2 linked regions of the Homo sapiens genome follow. The protein of the gene in region 2 interacts with the protein of the main gene of each other region in a pairwise test. Each region holds a gene or a part of one and is shown on either strand. Other genes may lie near its edges.

The links.
Region 1: the proteins of GCH1 (region 2) and TNPO3 interact in binary tests that used the Homo sapiens proteins (3 or more experiments, as listed by UniProt).

The regions. Positions count from the first base shown.
Region 1 is NC_000007.14:129,052,094-129,059,280, forward strand, and holds the start of TNPO3 (transportin-3), read right to left. Parts: upstream 3,019-7,187; 5' UTR 2,678-3,018; coding exon 2,558-2,677; intron 1-2,557. UniProt on the Homo sapiens protein: Importin, which transports target proteins into the nucleus. Specifically mediates the nuclear import of splicing factor serine/arginine (SR) proteins, such as RBM4, SFRS1 and SFRS2, by recognizing phosphorylated SR domains.
Region 2 is NC_000014.9:54,857,814-54,864,835, forward strand, and holds part of GCH1 (GTP cyclohydrolase 1), read right to left. Parts: intron 1,924-7,022; coding exon 1,868-1,923; intron 1-1,867. UniProt on the Homo sapiens protein: Positively regulates nitric oxide synthesis in umbilical vein endothelial cells (HUVECs). May be involved in dopamine synthesis. May modify pain sensitivity and persistence.

The DNA of each region.
Region 1 (7,187 bases), on a different chromosome or scaffold from region 2:
TACTGCTGGATATTTTCCAGATCCACTTTTCCACCCTCCTCTATCATGTTTTCTGCTCCAATAGGCTGACCTGTATAGACTTTACCAACAGGTCACTGTGCCCCTGGCTTCCGGTTGGGTTTGGCCAATGGGGAATCCCAGCAAGAAATTAAGAGAACAGGGTCAGGATATTCATTCCTCCAGCTTCATTCTCTCAAGGTCACCTGAAACTAGCTATGTCCCTTCGGCTGAAAGTCACCATTCCTCTCAAGGCAGCCAACTCCATACTTTTCAAGTAACTATTCCCTCTTTTATGGGATGTTAACCGTTCAGCTATAGGTTACCAAACTATTTCTTGTCACACCACTATACCTAAATCTTTATAATAGTATCTTTATAAAATAAACTCAGATTATCCTGTCAAGTGTGCCATCTGTTCCTGTCTGGACTCTGACTATTAACTGTGATGGTGAAGATGATGTAAGGTTGTAATAGAGTATTGGAAAGTAAGGAGAGAAAAGTGACTAATACTTAAATAACAATTGCTAACATTTTAATCTCTATGTTCCAAGAACTTTTCTAACCTCTTCGTAGAATATTAACTCATTTAATCACAACTACCTTCTGTGGTAAGCAGAGATTTTTGTCTGGTTCATTTCCAAATCCAAACACCCAGCATAGTTGCTGGCACATGGTAAGCACTCAAATATTGATTTAAAATACACACAACAAGCAGGTTTAATTAGAAAGAGATTACTTTTTTAGTATAGTGTAGCACTTCTCCTAATTACACTTTAGAAAACTATACAAAGATCAGGGAATTGTTGACTCTCCAGAGATCACAGAAACACTAAATGAGACCATATGTGAATGATTTTCTTGTGTAGCCTACAGTGAGTCGTATTCCTTTATTTTCTGAAGAGGACTTGGGTGCCAGTTTTTTAGGTTTAATATTCAAAGTCAAAGTTGCAGCGGGGGGCGATGGCTCACATCTATAATCCCAGCACTTTGGGAGGCCGAGGCGGGCGGATCACCTGAGGTCGGAGTTAGAGACCAGCCTGGCCAACATGGCGAAACCCCGTTTCTACTAAAAAATACAAAAATTAGCTGGGTGTGGTGGCGTGTGCCTGTAATCCCAGCTACTCAGGAGGCTGAGACAGGAGAATCACTTGAACCTGGGAGGAGGAGGTTGCAGTGTGCCGAGATAGCACCACTGCACTCCTCCAGCCTGGGCAACAGAGCCAGACTCTGTCTCAAGAAAAAAAAAAAAAAATTAGTCGGGTGTCAGGGCAGGCACCTGTAATCCCAGCTACTCGGGAGGCTGAGGCAGGAGAATCTCTTGAACCCGGGAGGAGGAGGTTGCAGTGAGCTGAGATGGGACCACTGCACTCCAGCCTGGGCGACAAAGCGAGACTCTGTCTCAAAAAAAAAAAAAAAAAAAAGGCAAAGTTGCTCCATACCAAGACCAGATTTTTAAAAAGTCAAAGTTGCAAATTTTTAAATATTATGCACTTGCAGCCTAGGAGCTGATTTAATAAGGCAGAGCACCTTTAAGTATCAGTTATGAGTTAAAATAAAGGGAAGGGGGCCAAAAAAAATATGGTTGTGAGTATAAAATGCAAAAATAAAGGTAAAGGTGAGTATTTTGTCAGCCTGTAAAAAAAGCCTCTTTAGTTTTCAAAGTACTTAATTTTTAAAGTACATCCTACATTAGAACCTAAGTCAGCCAGATAACCAAGAATACACATTTACACAGAAATGAAGCACAGCAAAGGTGTGAAAATTAGGGCAGGAAGCATAAAACATGAATCAAAGAATGCAGAAATACAACAGATATAAGCTACAATTAAATATCTCACCGGATGCACACACAGTTTTATATGGAATAATCAAAGCAGCAGTGATACCCATCTTATAAATAAAAATCTAAAAGCCAGAGAAATAACAAGGTTAGAGGATTAATATGAAACAAAATGAGAACTCCAAAGATTTTCTGAAAGCAGAATTACTGTTTTTTCTTCATATTATGTTGCCACTCCAAAGCAAGGGGAAAACTCGCATGAGTAAGAATCTAGAAACCTGAGAAGTTTCGAGAAGAACAGACTCAAACTGGAGTGAAAATAGGCAAAAAGAGTGAGGCATAAGGCTACGACTGGGAGCAAAATGCCAGATGCAAGTCTTGGACACGGAGGGGAGACGAATAAAGCCTTCTTAAGCGGAAGGTGGAGAAACACTGGGGTTGGATTTGGTGGGAGGAAGACAAAACGGAAAAGCACGGCCCAAGAAGCAACGGCAAAGGGAGAACTTAAACAAGATTAGATTGATGCCACAATCGAAGAGTATAAGACCTACAAATCAGATTCTGCCGGGTGGGGAAAGGGCCAGTTCGCGACCGATCAGGTGCGACTAGTTTCCCAAAAGCGGCAAAGATGTAGCTTCGCAGCCCCACCCCACGACAGCAGCTCCTCCCCAAGGAGGACCTCACGAGGTCAACTGCCGGGCTCAGGTTCTCCCCCGGAGCCTAGGTTCCACCCCGCCCCGGCCGTGCGGCACAGAACTGCCTCTCTGGGCCCCTCACCGAACGCTGCAGCTCCCCAAGCCAAAAAGAGGCGCGCTCCTTTCCGCTGGGATCTGGGTCGTGGTAAAGCGCCTGCACTGCCTGGTACACGAGCTGCAATGTCGGCTTTGCTCCTTCCATGGTGGTGGCGGTAGTGGCGGTAGCGACGGCTCTGATTCTTCTCCGGAGGATTCCTCGGTTGCTCCGCCTTCGCGCTTCCTCACTGTCTGGGCCACGGCCGCTCCCTGACTGGCGCCATCTCCTCCTCTTTGGCCGTTACCAGGGCAGAAGGCTCTCCGTGGAAGTTGCCCCCTCGGAAACAGCTATTAGGTCGTATTCAGGTTCCTGGCCTTTTTTCCGGTTTTTCCACTTGATTCTAGACTCTTGAGTCCACAGATTCTGGCGCTCCCGTCTTCAGTCGCTGACTTGCCCTCAGAAGCCTATCTTGGGAGGCCACACACCAGTGTACCTAAGGTTCGTTTACCCGGACCGGAAGCGACAGCACCGATACCTTTGGCACACTTCCGCCTGGTACACTACAAACGGCCTCCTTCCCGGCACGCCTCCTCTTGTCTCCCCGCCCCCTCCCGGAAGTAACCCTGCCGGGCCAGGAGCCGGGAAGAAGAGCCGGTGTTCTCTCTGTTCCTCGCTAGCAGCTTGGGACATTAGCGCCGAGATGTGCCCCATATCTGAGCTGCCTTCAGCTCCTTGGAAACGGATCCAGGTTTTTCCTACCCCTTCCGACTGCCCCATCCCTCTCCAGAGAATCCTTTTCTGCCCTGGTGATCAAGGCGCGTCAATTCAACTCTCCCTAGAGTGGCCACAGTACTGGAGATCCAAAGATGACTTAAGACATGGTACCTACGCTGGCTCTAGTGGAGGAGACAGACACGTAGTCAACTGAACTATTTTACAAACCTGAAATATGTGCCACATTGAGATAAATCCAAAATGCCTAGAATCTTTGTTCAGCTCCCCTTTACTTAGTTCTTAAGCCCAAAAGAGGTCTTCATTCTGCTTACAGCTCCTGGTGCTCTAACTCCAGAGCATTTTGCATACATCTTTAGGGTTATTCTCACATTGAACTGTATTTTTGTGAATGCCTTTCTGTCCGAATCCAATACCAGTGGTCTAACAATTCACAAAAGAAAACAGAAATATTGGAAACTGTACTATGGAGAAATTAGGGACAAAAGGTAACAGTATATTGATATTAACATTGCTGCTAGTCCTTTGCACTAGTAAATAACTGCTATTTGATAAATGATCACAATGTGTAAAACACTGTAGTTACAAGATCTCATTTAATCCGCCTAACAACCTTGCCAAGTATTAATAAAACCCGTTTTAGGCGCTGACACTGACCTACAGCGCCTCAGCTCCAGCGCCATGGCGCCCTCCAGGAAGTTCTTCGTGGGGAGGAACTGGAAGATGAACGGGCGGAAGAAATGTCTGGGGGAGCTCATCGGCACTCAGAACGCGGCCACTGTGCCTGCCGACACCAAGGTGATTTGTGCTCTCGCCACTGCGTATAACGAGTTGGCCCGGCAGAAGCTAGCTCCCAAGATTGCTGTGGCTCCGCAGAACTGCTACAAAGTGACTAATGGGGCCTTTACTGGGGAGATCAGCCCTGGCATGGTCAAAGACTTAGGAGTCACGTGGGTGGTGTGGTCCTGGGGCACTCAGAAGGCGTGTCTTTGGGGAGTCAGATGAGCTGATTGGGCAGAAAAGTGGCCCATGCTCTGGCAGAGAGACTCGGAGTAATCGCCTGCATTGGGGAGAAGCTAGATGAAAGGGAAGCTGGCATCACTGAGAAGGTTGTTTTTGAGCAGACAAAGGTCATCGCAGATAATGTGAAGGACTGGAGCAAGGTCATCTTGGCCTATGATCCCGTGTGGGCCACTGGTACTGGCAAGACTGCAACACCCCAACAGGCCCAGGAGGTACACAAGAAGCTCCGAGGATGGCTTAAGTCCAACATCTCTGATGCAGTGGCTCAGAGCACTGGTATCATTTATGGAGGCTCTGTGACCAAGGCAACCTGCAAGGAGCTGGCCAGCCAGCCTGACGTGGCTGCCTTCCTCATGAGTGGTGTTTCCCTCAAGCCCGAATTCGTAGACATCATCAATGCCAAACAATGAGCCCCATCCGTCTTCCCTACCCTTCCTGCCAACCCAGGAACTAAGCAGCCCAGAAGCTGAGTGACTGCCCCTCCCCTGCACATGCTTCTGATGGTGTCATCTGCACCCTATTGTGGCCTCATCCAAACTGTATCTTCCTTTACTATGTATACCTTCACCGTGTAATGGTCGGGACCAGACCAATCCCTTCTCCACTTACTGTAATTGTTGGAACTAAATGTCACCAATGTGGCTTCTCCTTGGCTGAGAGGTGAAAGGGATGGAATTTGCTCCTGGGTCCCCTAGGCCCTAGTGAGGGGAGGAGAGAGAACCCATCCTCTCCCTTCTTACACTGTGAGGCCAAGCAGAAGCCAGGGGTGCTGCCCTCTCCCACGGTGCCAACGCCTTTGTGTGTTGTGTATGTGAGCCATCCCACATGTGAGGGAAATAAACCCCTGGCACTTAAAAAACAAACAAAAAAACGCATTTTAAAGAAAGAAAAATAGTAATGTAATTTGCCCAAGGATACAGTTCTTAAAGTTAGGATTTGAATCCAGATCAGTGTTGCTCCAAAACCTGTTAAATCACACAATCCCTATCATCTTGTGCATTCGTTTGCTTCTGAATTGTTAGTCAAGGAATTTTTAACTGCCAACAACATGATGAAAACAATGTTACTGCACAGAGTTGATACAATTTTAGACAGAAAAAAGAAACTTGATATTTTGGTTACCTAATCCATTCATTCATTAAAAAAAAATTTAGTGCTGGGCTTGGTGGCTCACAACTGTGTAATCCCGGCATTTTGGGAGGCCGAGGCAAGAGGATTACCTTTGAGGCCAGGAGTTCAAGACCATCCTGGGTAATGAAATGAGACTCCATCTCTACAAAAAAAAATGCAAAAAAATTAGCAGGGCATGGTGGTGGGTGCTTCTAATCCCAGCTACTCAGGAGGCTGAGGTGGGAGTATTGCTTTAGCCCAGGAGGTGGGGGTTGCAGTGAGCAGAGATTGTGCCACTGCACTCCAGCCTGGGAAACAGTGAGACCATATCTCAAAACAAATTTTTTTGTGTGTATCAAAGGACACTATCAAGAAAGTGAAGTAACAGTCCACAACATGGAAGGGAATGTGCAAATAACATATCTGATAACTGATTAGTATCCAGAGTATATAAAGAACTCTTACAATTCAACAATGAAAAGACAACTCAGTTTTTGGGTTTGTTTTGTGTGTGTGTGTGTGTGTGTGTGTGTTTTGTTTTTTTGTTTTGAGTTGGAGTCTTGCTCTGTTGCCCAGGCTAGAGTACAATGGCACAATCTCAGCTCACTGAAACCTCCACCTCCTGGGTTCAAGCGATTCTTGTACCTCATCCTCCCACGTAGTTGGGATTACAGGTGCCCACAACCATGCCTGGCTGATTTTTGTATTTTTAGTAGAAACAGGGCTTCACCACGTTGGCCAGGTTGGTCTCGAACTCCTGACCTCAAGTGATCCACCCGCCTCAGCCTTTCAAAGTGCTGGAATTACAGGCGTAAGCCACCATGTCTGGCCTCAGATAATTCAGTTTTTTAAATGGGCAGTGAATTTGAATAGACATTTCTTCCAAGAAGATATACAAATGCACATGAAAAGATGCTCATCATTAGCCCTCAGGGAAATACAAATCAAAACTGCAATGAGATACAACTTCACACCCACTAGAAAAACTAAAATTTAAAAAATGATAAATGCTGGTGAGAATGTGGACAAATCAGAACTCTCATGCACTATTCATGGGATTGTATCATGGTGCGGCCATGTTGAAAAAGTTTGGCAGCTCTTCAAAAAAATGTTAAACATAGAATTATCATATGAACCAGCAGTTCTACACTTAGGTATATACTCAAGAGAAATGATAACGTGTGTGCATACAAGCACTTGCACGTGCATATTCATAGCAGCATTATTCATAATAGACGGCAGAAACAGCCCCAATATCCGTCATTTGATGCATGGATAAACAAAGTGTGCTATATCCATACAATGAAAGGTTATTTGACCCTTAAAAGGAATGAAGTACAGATAGATGCTACAATATAGATAAACTTGAAAAATTATGCTAAGTGAAAGTGGCCAGACACAAAAGGCACATTAATTACGCGATTCTATTTACATAAAATGTTCAGAGTAGGCAAAATTCTAAATATAGACAGTAGATTGGTCATTTCCAGGGTTGGTTTTTTGTTTTGGGTTTTGTTTTTTTTTGTATTGATGGAAATAAATGCTCTGGAATTATTGACGATGTTCAGAAAAACCTCATGAATATATTAAAAACCACTGGCATATGTTTTTTATATGTTTTAAAAGGATGAGTTTTATGGCAATGTGAACTATATTTCAATAAAACTTATTTTTAAAAGTTCTATGGTTAGGAATTATTAAAACACCACATGGATATTTAGCTAACAGTTGGAGAAAAAAGAAAAAAAAATAGAGGTGATACCTAACCCAGAGTAGAGAGATTGGTAACACCATCTGGAGAAATTATGTC
Region 2 (7,022 bases):
CACACTTTTTCTCAGCAACTTTTCAGCACTGCCACCAGGGATGGATCACACGCAAGCAGCCAGAATGTTTCTGGATTTGTGCTAAGAGCCTTATTCCAGTGAAGCAATTACAGCTATGATATAATATTCTTTCATGGTGCCAAGCAGCCCTATCTAATAGCAAAATAGCTGAGCAGGAATGAGGTCAGAAACTGGGGAAGTTAAATTTGTCTCTTCTACCCACTTTCTTATTGATCCCCAGAGGAAATGAATGAGAAAGTGGAAGTGAAAACAAAGTAACAGGAACAACTTTAGAGGGCAGTTGTCAGATTGCTGGAGTAGTTTTTTTTTTACAGATTCCAACACAGAATTGAGAAATATCAGGACCACCATTTCACAACTGTGTTAAATCCCAGGGCCTGCATAAAGAAACAGGAACACATCAGAGCCACAGCACAGTCAACTGGTCACAGAGACTCATTTATTCCTCTTCTTTTATTTTTATTTTTTTGAGATAGGGTCTTACTCCATCGCCCAGGCTGGAGTGCAATGGCACAATCTCGGCTCACTGCAAGCTCTGCCTCCCGGGTTCAAGTAATTCTCCTGCCTCAGCCTCCTGATTAGCTGGGATTACAGGTGTGCGCCACCACGCCCAGCTAATCTTTGTATTTTTAGTAGAGATGGGGTTTCACCATGTTGGTGAGGCTGGTCTCAAACTCCTGACCTCAAGTGATCCGCCCGCCTCAGCCTCCCAAAGTGCTGGGATTACAAGTGTGAAAGACGGCACCCGGCCGAGACTCATTTATTTCAATTATGATATGGTCACTATAACCTCAAGTTATTCAAACTTAGCTTGATTATTTTTGAAAAAAAAAAAGAGTAGGAACACTTTACCCGACCCCTTCATCTTGTTCTTAACTTTCTCTCTCTCTCCACACACACACACACCTCCCAGTATTTCCTCCATCACTCAAAATTCACTAACTTTATACGAAGAAACAACAAGGATATTTAAGGGCAATAAAATATTGGTGGCTGGGGCCTACCAGAGATATCTGAACACAAACCCCCATGTTGACTTCCAGTTAAACACAGATGAACGTGTATGTACATCACCTCTCCTAAAACCCAAATAAAAAAGGCAGTAAGGGAATTTTTTAAGGCATGAACCCACAGGATAAACAACAGAAAAGAAGATTGTAGCAGGAAAGAGAAATGAGAGCGAGGAGCGTGAACACTGTATCAGAATAAAGCTGTGCAAAGCCAAGGCAGGCAGTCTTGTGTTTGCAGAAACAAAGAACCTAGACATGAACGGACTGGCCTGCAGGACCCCTGAGATATGCCTGGAGGCATCCAGTGCAGAGCAAGGCAGGGTTGAGGCTGGGGATCCCACAGGGAAGTTTCATTACAAGTCTGAAAGCAGTGTTGTATGAAAGCAAAGAAGGTGAGCACTCCCCTTGACAAGGATAGAAGAGTCCTCAGGCCTGACAACAAGTTCGACAGCAGAGCACTGCAGCTAGACCCCTGCCCAGCTTCTTCCCCAACCCCTCACTGTTAGCTAAACCCCCCTTAAAGGATGGGGCTGGACTGAAGGTAAGCTCAGGACCTCTCCAGTCAGAGAAGGCTCTGCAGAGAAAGAGGTGGGCTGAGACTTCCAGGATGTATGTATCTATGGAAGAAAGGGTGGGAAGTGGAAGAGGAAGCAGGCAGTAGGGGACGAGAAGGAAGGGGCATCTGTGTTTCAGACCCTCCAAGTCTTTAAGTTGCAATATGACTTCCAAGTTAGATCCATACAGGTAAAGAGAGAAAGCCTGATGAGATAGATTCTCAGCAGATGAGGGCAGGTCCTATAAACCTGTATTCTTGTTCACTGCACAGTCACACTTACCTCGCAAGTTTGCTGAGGCCAAGGACTTGCTTGTTAGGAAGATAACCAATATGGACCTTCAGAGAAGAGACGGAAATCATTAGCTGAGTGAAAATACAGTGCCTTCTTTGTGACAAAATAAGGAAATATAGAAAGAATATAGTACACTTTTATGTAATTTATCACGACAATGTATTACCTTGAAAACATCTGGAACTGTTAAGACTTAGAAAATGAAACATTTATATATGTATTTTTAAAATTACATAAATGCAGTAAAAGCAAAATATATAAGTATGAGTCTATTAATCAAATAACAAACTTGTACAGTTGTCCGTTGGTAAATGCGGGAGATTGCTTCCAGGACCCCTGTGTATACCCAAATCCTGCATACTCAAGTCCCGCAGTCGGCCCTGCAGAACCTGCATATATGAAAAGTTGCCCCTCCATCTATACAGGTTTTGTATCCTGCAAATACTGTAGAATTTTTGATCAGTGTTTGCTTGAAAAAGAGCCATGTCTAAGTGGACCCATGCAGTTCAAATTCATGTTGTTCAAGAGTCAATTGCATGGCCCTGACACTTACCTGTGAAGTTGAACTCTTGACACAAATCTGAAAGTTTCTTCTTTATGGAGGAGAAACATTCTCAAGGAAAGGCAAATGATCTCATAGCAACACTAAAATGTATACAGGAAAGCCTCCTTTAAATGGCAAAAACTGTAAGCATAAGTATTGCCATTCCACACATCACAGCAGCCTTAAGATCCCACCTCACAGCCTTAAGATCCCACCGCAAAGCCCTGCAGCACAGAAGGTCTCCACACCCTTTTGTGCTTGGCTTCCTGGTTTCTAAGCTGCTAGAGAGTGCACCATCTTCCTTTTTTTTTTTTTTTTTTTTGAGATGGAGTCTCACTCTGTCGCCCAGGCTGGAGTACAGTGGCCCAGTCTTGGCTCACTGCAAGCTCCGCCTCCAAGGTTCAAGCAATTCCCCTGCCTTAGCCTCCTGAGTAGCCGGGACTACAGGCGCCTGCCACCACACCCAGCTAATTTTTGTATTTTTAGTAGAGATGGTGTTTCACCGTGTTAGCCAGGATGGTTTCGATCTCCTGACCTTGTGATCTGCCCGCCTCGGCCTCCCAAAGAGTTGGGATTACAGGCGTGAGCCACCACGCCCGGCCCCATCTTCCTAACTGGAGAAAAAGGGCACTGCTACCACCATGGCTTGGCAAGAACCTGCACCCTAAGAACTAAGTTTTAAAGGACCCAATATACAGCCAGGCCATTTCTGTTATCTTAAATGGCACCAATTAATATCAAATATAAAAGTTACTCTTTTGGGGCCAAATACTACATACGAAAAACATTAGTTCTCTGAAAAGATTAATAGAGTAAATGGTCACTTGTAGGCAATTAATTAACCGAATATAAAATTAGAGACTCAACGGCATCATGGTTTGCTAACACTGTTTTCATTGTTCACTTACTATTTACATAATTGATCTAGTAGTACTTAGTGATTTTTTCCCCCATCCATTGGCACTATGCTTTAGGAATTTGAGAAGTCCACCTCATTGCCTTCCTGGTTGGCAGGAGGAAAAAGTAAAATAGCACCTGAACATTGAGGATTTCAAAGAAAAATTAGAGAGTTAAAACTTTCCCATGAACCAAGGTCTTCTATGCTGTCTGAAATTTTTACATTTCCATGCAGACACGGAATTTGTTCATTGTTTATACTATTTTTGGTCTTAAGATCCTAGGTAATTTAAATGTCCATTTCACAAAATCACTAGATAGGCCAGGAGTGGTGGCTCACACCTGTAATTCCAACATTTTGGGTGGATTGCCTGAGGTCAGGAGTTCAAGACCAGCCTGGCCAACATGGTGAGACCCCATCTCTACTAAAAATACAAAAATTAGCCAGGCGTGGTGGCGGGTGCCTGTAATCCCAGCTATTCGAGAGGCTGAAGCAGAAGAATTGCTTGAACCTGGGAGGCGGAGGTTGCAGTGAGCCGAGATCGCACCACTGCACTCCAGCCTAGGCAACAAGAGCGAAACTGTCTCAAAAAAAAAAAAAAAATCACTAAATAATATATTTTTAAAACAAAGGTAGCAAAAACACAAACACTGAGGAAGTAATAGCAGAAAGTAACAGGATAAAATGGTGACAGGCTGAGTACAGAATCAGTGCCTTGGATCTGGCTGCAGCCAAGCCACTAACTCTCTCTATCCTCTTGAACAAGTCACAGGCTTTCTGTGCCTAATTTGCTCACCAATAGATTCCCTTTCAAAGATTCCTTCATTATCAATTGCAGGATTTCCAGATACGATATGGCTTCTGATGTGATGTATCTGGGTTTTCTGATTGCTTTCTCTTCTTTTCTTTTTAGAGACAAGGTCTTGTTCTGTCACCCAGGTTGGGGTACAGTGGCATGATCATAGTTCACTGTAACCTGAAACTCCTGAGCTCAAGCAATCTTCCTGCCTCAGACTCCCAAAAAGTAGCTAGGACTACAGGTATGCACCCACCATGCCCAATTAATTTTAAAAAAAAATTTATTTTGTGGTAGAGACAGTCTCACTTGCTGGTCTTGAACTATTGACCTGAAGCTATCCTCCCACCTTGACTTCCCAAGTCGCTGGGATTACAGGCATGAGCCACCTCACTCGGCCCTGATGTGATATAATATGAAGTCTTCAGCACCCTTATGAAGCACTACTCTTTTTTTTTTTTTTTTTTTTTTTGGACACGGATTCACTCTCTTGCCAGGCTGGAGTGCAGTGGTGTGATCTCGGCTCACTGCAGCCTCGACCTCCTGGGTTCAAGCGATTCTCCAACCTCACCCTCCCGAGTAGCTGAGACCACAGGTGCATGCCACCATGCTAGCTAATTTTTGCCTGTTTTTTTGTTTGTCTGTTTGGTTGATTGGTTTTCGTTTTTTTTTTTTTTGGTTGGTTTTTTTTTTTTTGGTAGAGACAGGGTTTTACCATGTTGCCTAGGTTGGTCTCAAACTCCTGAGCTCAAAGCGATACATCCACCACCTGCCTTGGCCTCCCAAAGTGTTGAGATTACTGACGTAAGCCACCGTGCCCAGCCCTTACGAACTACTTTTATCAGAAATGTTTAGCCCTAGTCTTATGAAACTTTAGATCTAATCTAGTTTATAGGAAATCCAGAGGCTGAAGGAAACAAATCTGGAAGGTGGGGCACTCTGCTGAACAGCTGGCCTATTTTCTTTTCAGTAGAGAATGTTATGGGTGGGAGCACTATTTTAGAACAAAAGGGACTTAACAGGTATAACCAAATGCAATGTAAATACAAATGTGTGACTCTCCCTTGGATTCCTGTTTAAACAAACCAAGAGTAAACATTTGAGACAATTGGAGAAATTTAAATATGAATTCGTTATTAGACACTATTTAAGAATTATTGTTAATTTTGTGATAGTGCTGCTGTGGATAAGTAAGAAAATATTTTAGGGCCAGGTGCGGTGGCTCACGCCTGTAATCCCAGCACTTTGGGAGGCCAAGGCGGGCGGATCACGAGGTCAGGAGATCAAGACCATCCTGGCTAACACCGTGAAACCCCTTCTCTACTAAAAATACAACAACAAAATTAGCCAGCATGGTGGCAGGCGCCTGTAGTCCCAGCTACTCAGGAGGCTGAGGTGAGAGAATGGCGTGAACCCGGGAGGTGGAGCTTGCAGTGAGCCGAGATCACACCACTGCAATCTAGCCTGGGCGACAGAGCGAGACTCCGTCTCAAAAAAAAAAAAAAAAAAAAAAAAAAGCATGCACATGTACTCCAAAAAAGTATTGACAGCAGTATTGTTTGTAATAGCAAAAAAAAAAAAAAAAAAAAAAGAGGCAACAATACAAAGGTCCACCAAGAGCAGAATAGATAAATTGTGGTATATTTGTACAATGGAATAAGATATAACAATGAAAATAAACTACAATGACAGGCAATGACATCAATGAATCCGACTATGTAGAACAAGAGAGGCCAGACACAAAGAGTACATATCGTAGAATCTTTCCACTTACATATAGTTGAAAAACAAGAAAACGAATCCATAGGGTTATAAGTTGATAAACTGATACAAAGGATGGATTAGGGATTAAGAAGAGAAAAGAAATGAGGTGAGCTTCCAGGATGCTACACATATTGTAGTTGTGGGGGTTTCGTTGTTGTTTGTTTGTTTGTTTGTTTGACAGGGTCTGGCAGTCTGGCTCTGTTGCCCAGGCTAGGATATAGTGGCGCAATCTCGGCTCACTGCAACCCCTGCCTCTTGGACTCAAGCCATCCTCCCATCTCAGCCTCCCGAGTAGCTGGCAGTACAGGCATGCACCACCATGCCCAGGTAATTTTTATTTTTATCTTGGTAGAGATGGGGTCTCACCATGTTGCCCAGGCTGGTCTTGAACTCCTGGGTTCAAGCAATCCACCTACCTCAGCCTTCCAAAGTGCTGGGATTACAGGCATGAACCACCGTGCCAGCCTATTCTAGTTCTTGATCTCTGAAGTGGTAAGGAACACCCTTAAGTTTTATGCATTTTCTATCTATATATTATTTCCATAAAAAAGTGAAAAGATACAATACTTTAACAAAGACAAAAATGAAGCAAATGTTAACACTTTAACTTTAGTTGATGGGTATATAAGTATTCATAACACTGCTTCTTGTAAGTCTTCTGTTTAAAGATTATTAATAAAGAGTCAAAATTAAATAAAATTATGATGGGGGTAGGGAAATGGGACAACTCTTTGTTCTATACCACATGTTCTCAAAGGTATGTTAAGTAGTCATTCCTAGACAACATCTAATAACTAACTCAGATTTAAATTCCTCCAATTGTCTCAAATGTTTTACTTTTGGTTTGTTTAAACAGGAATCCAATGGAGAGTCACACATTTGTATTTACACTGCATTTGGTTATACCTCTTAAGTCCCTTTTGTCCTAAAATAGTGCTCCCACCCATAATATTCTCTATTGAAAAGAGAATAGGCCAGCTGTTCAGCAGAGTGCCCCACCTTCTGGATTTGTTCCATTCAGCCTCTGGATTTCCTGTAAACTAGATTAGATCTAAAGTTTCATAAGACTAGGACTAAACATTTCTGACAAAAGAAATTCACAGAGGTGCTGAGGAATCTAATGCATTAGATTCACTTTTCC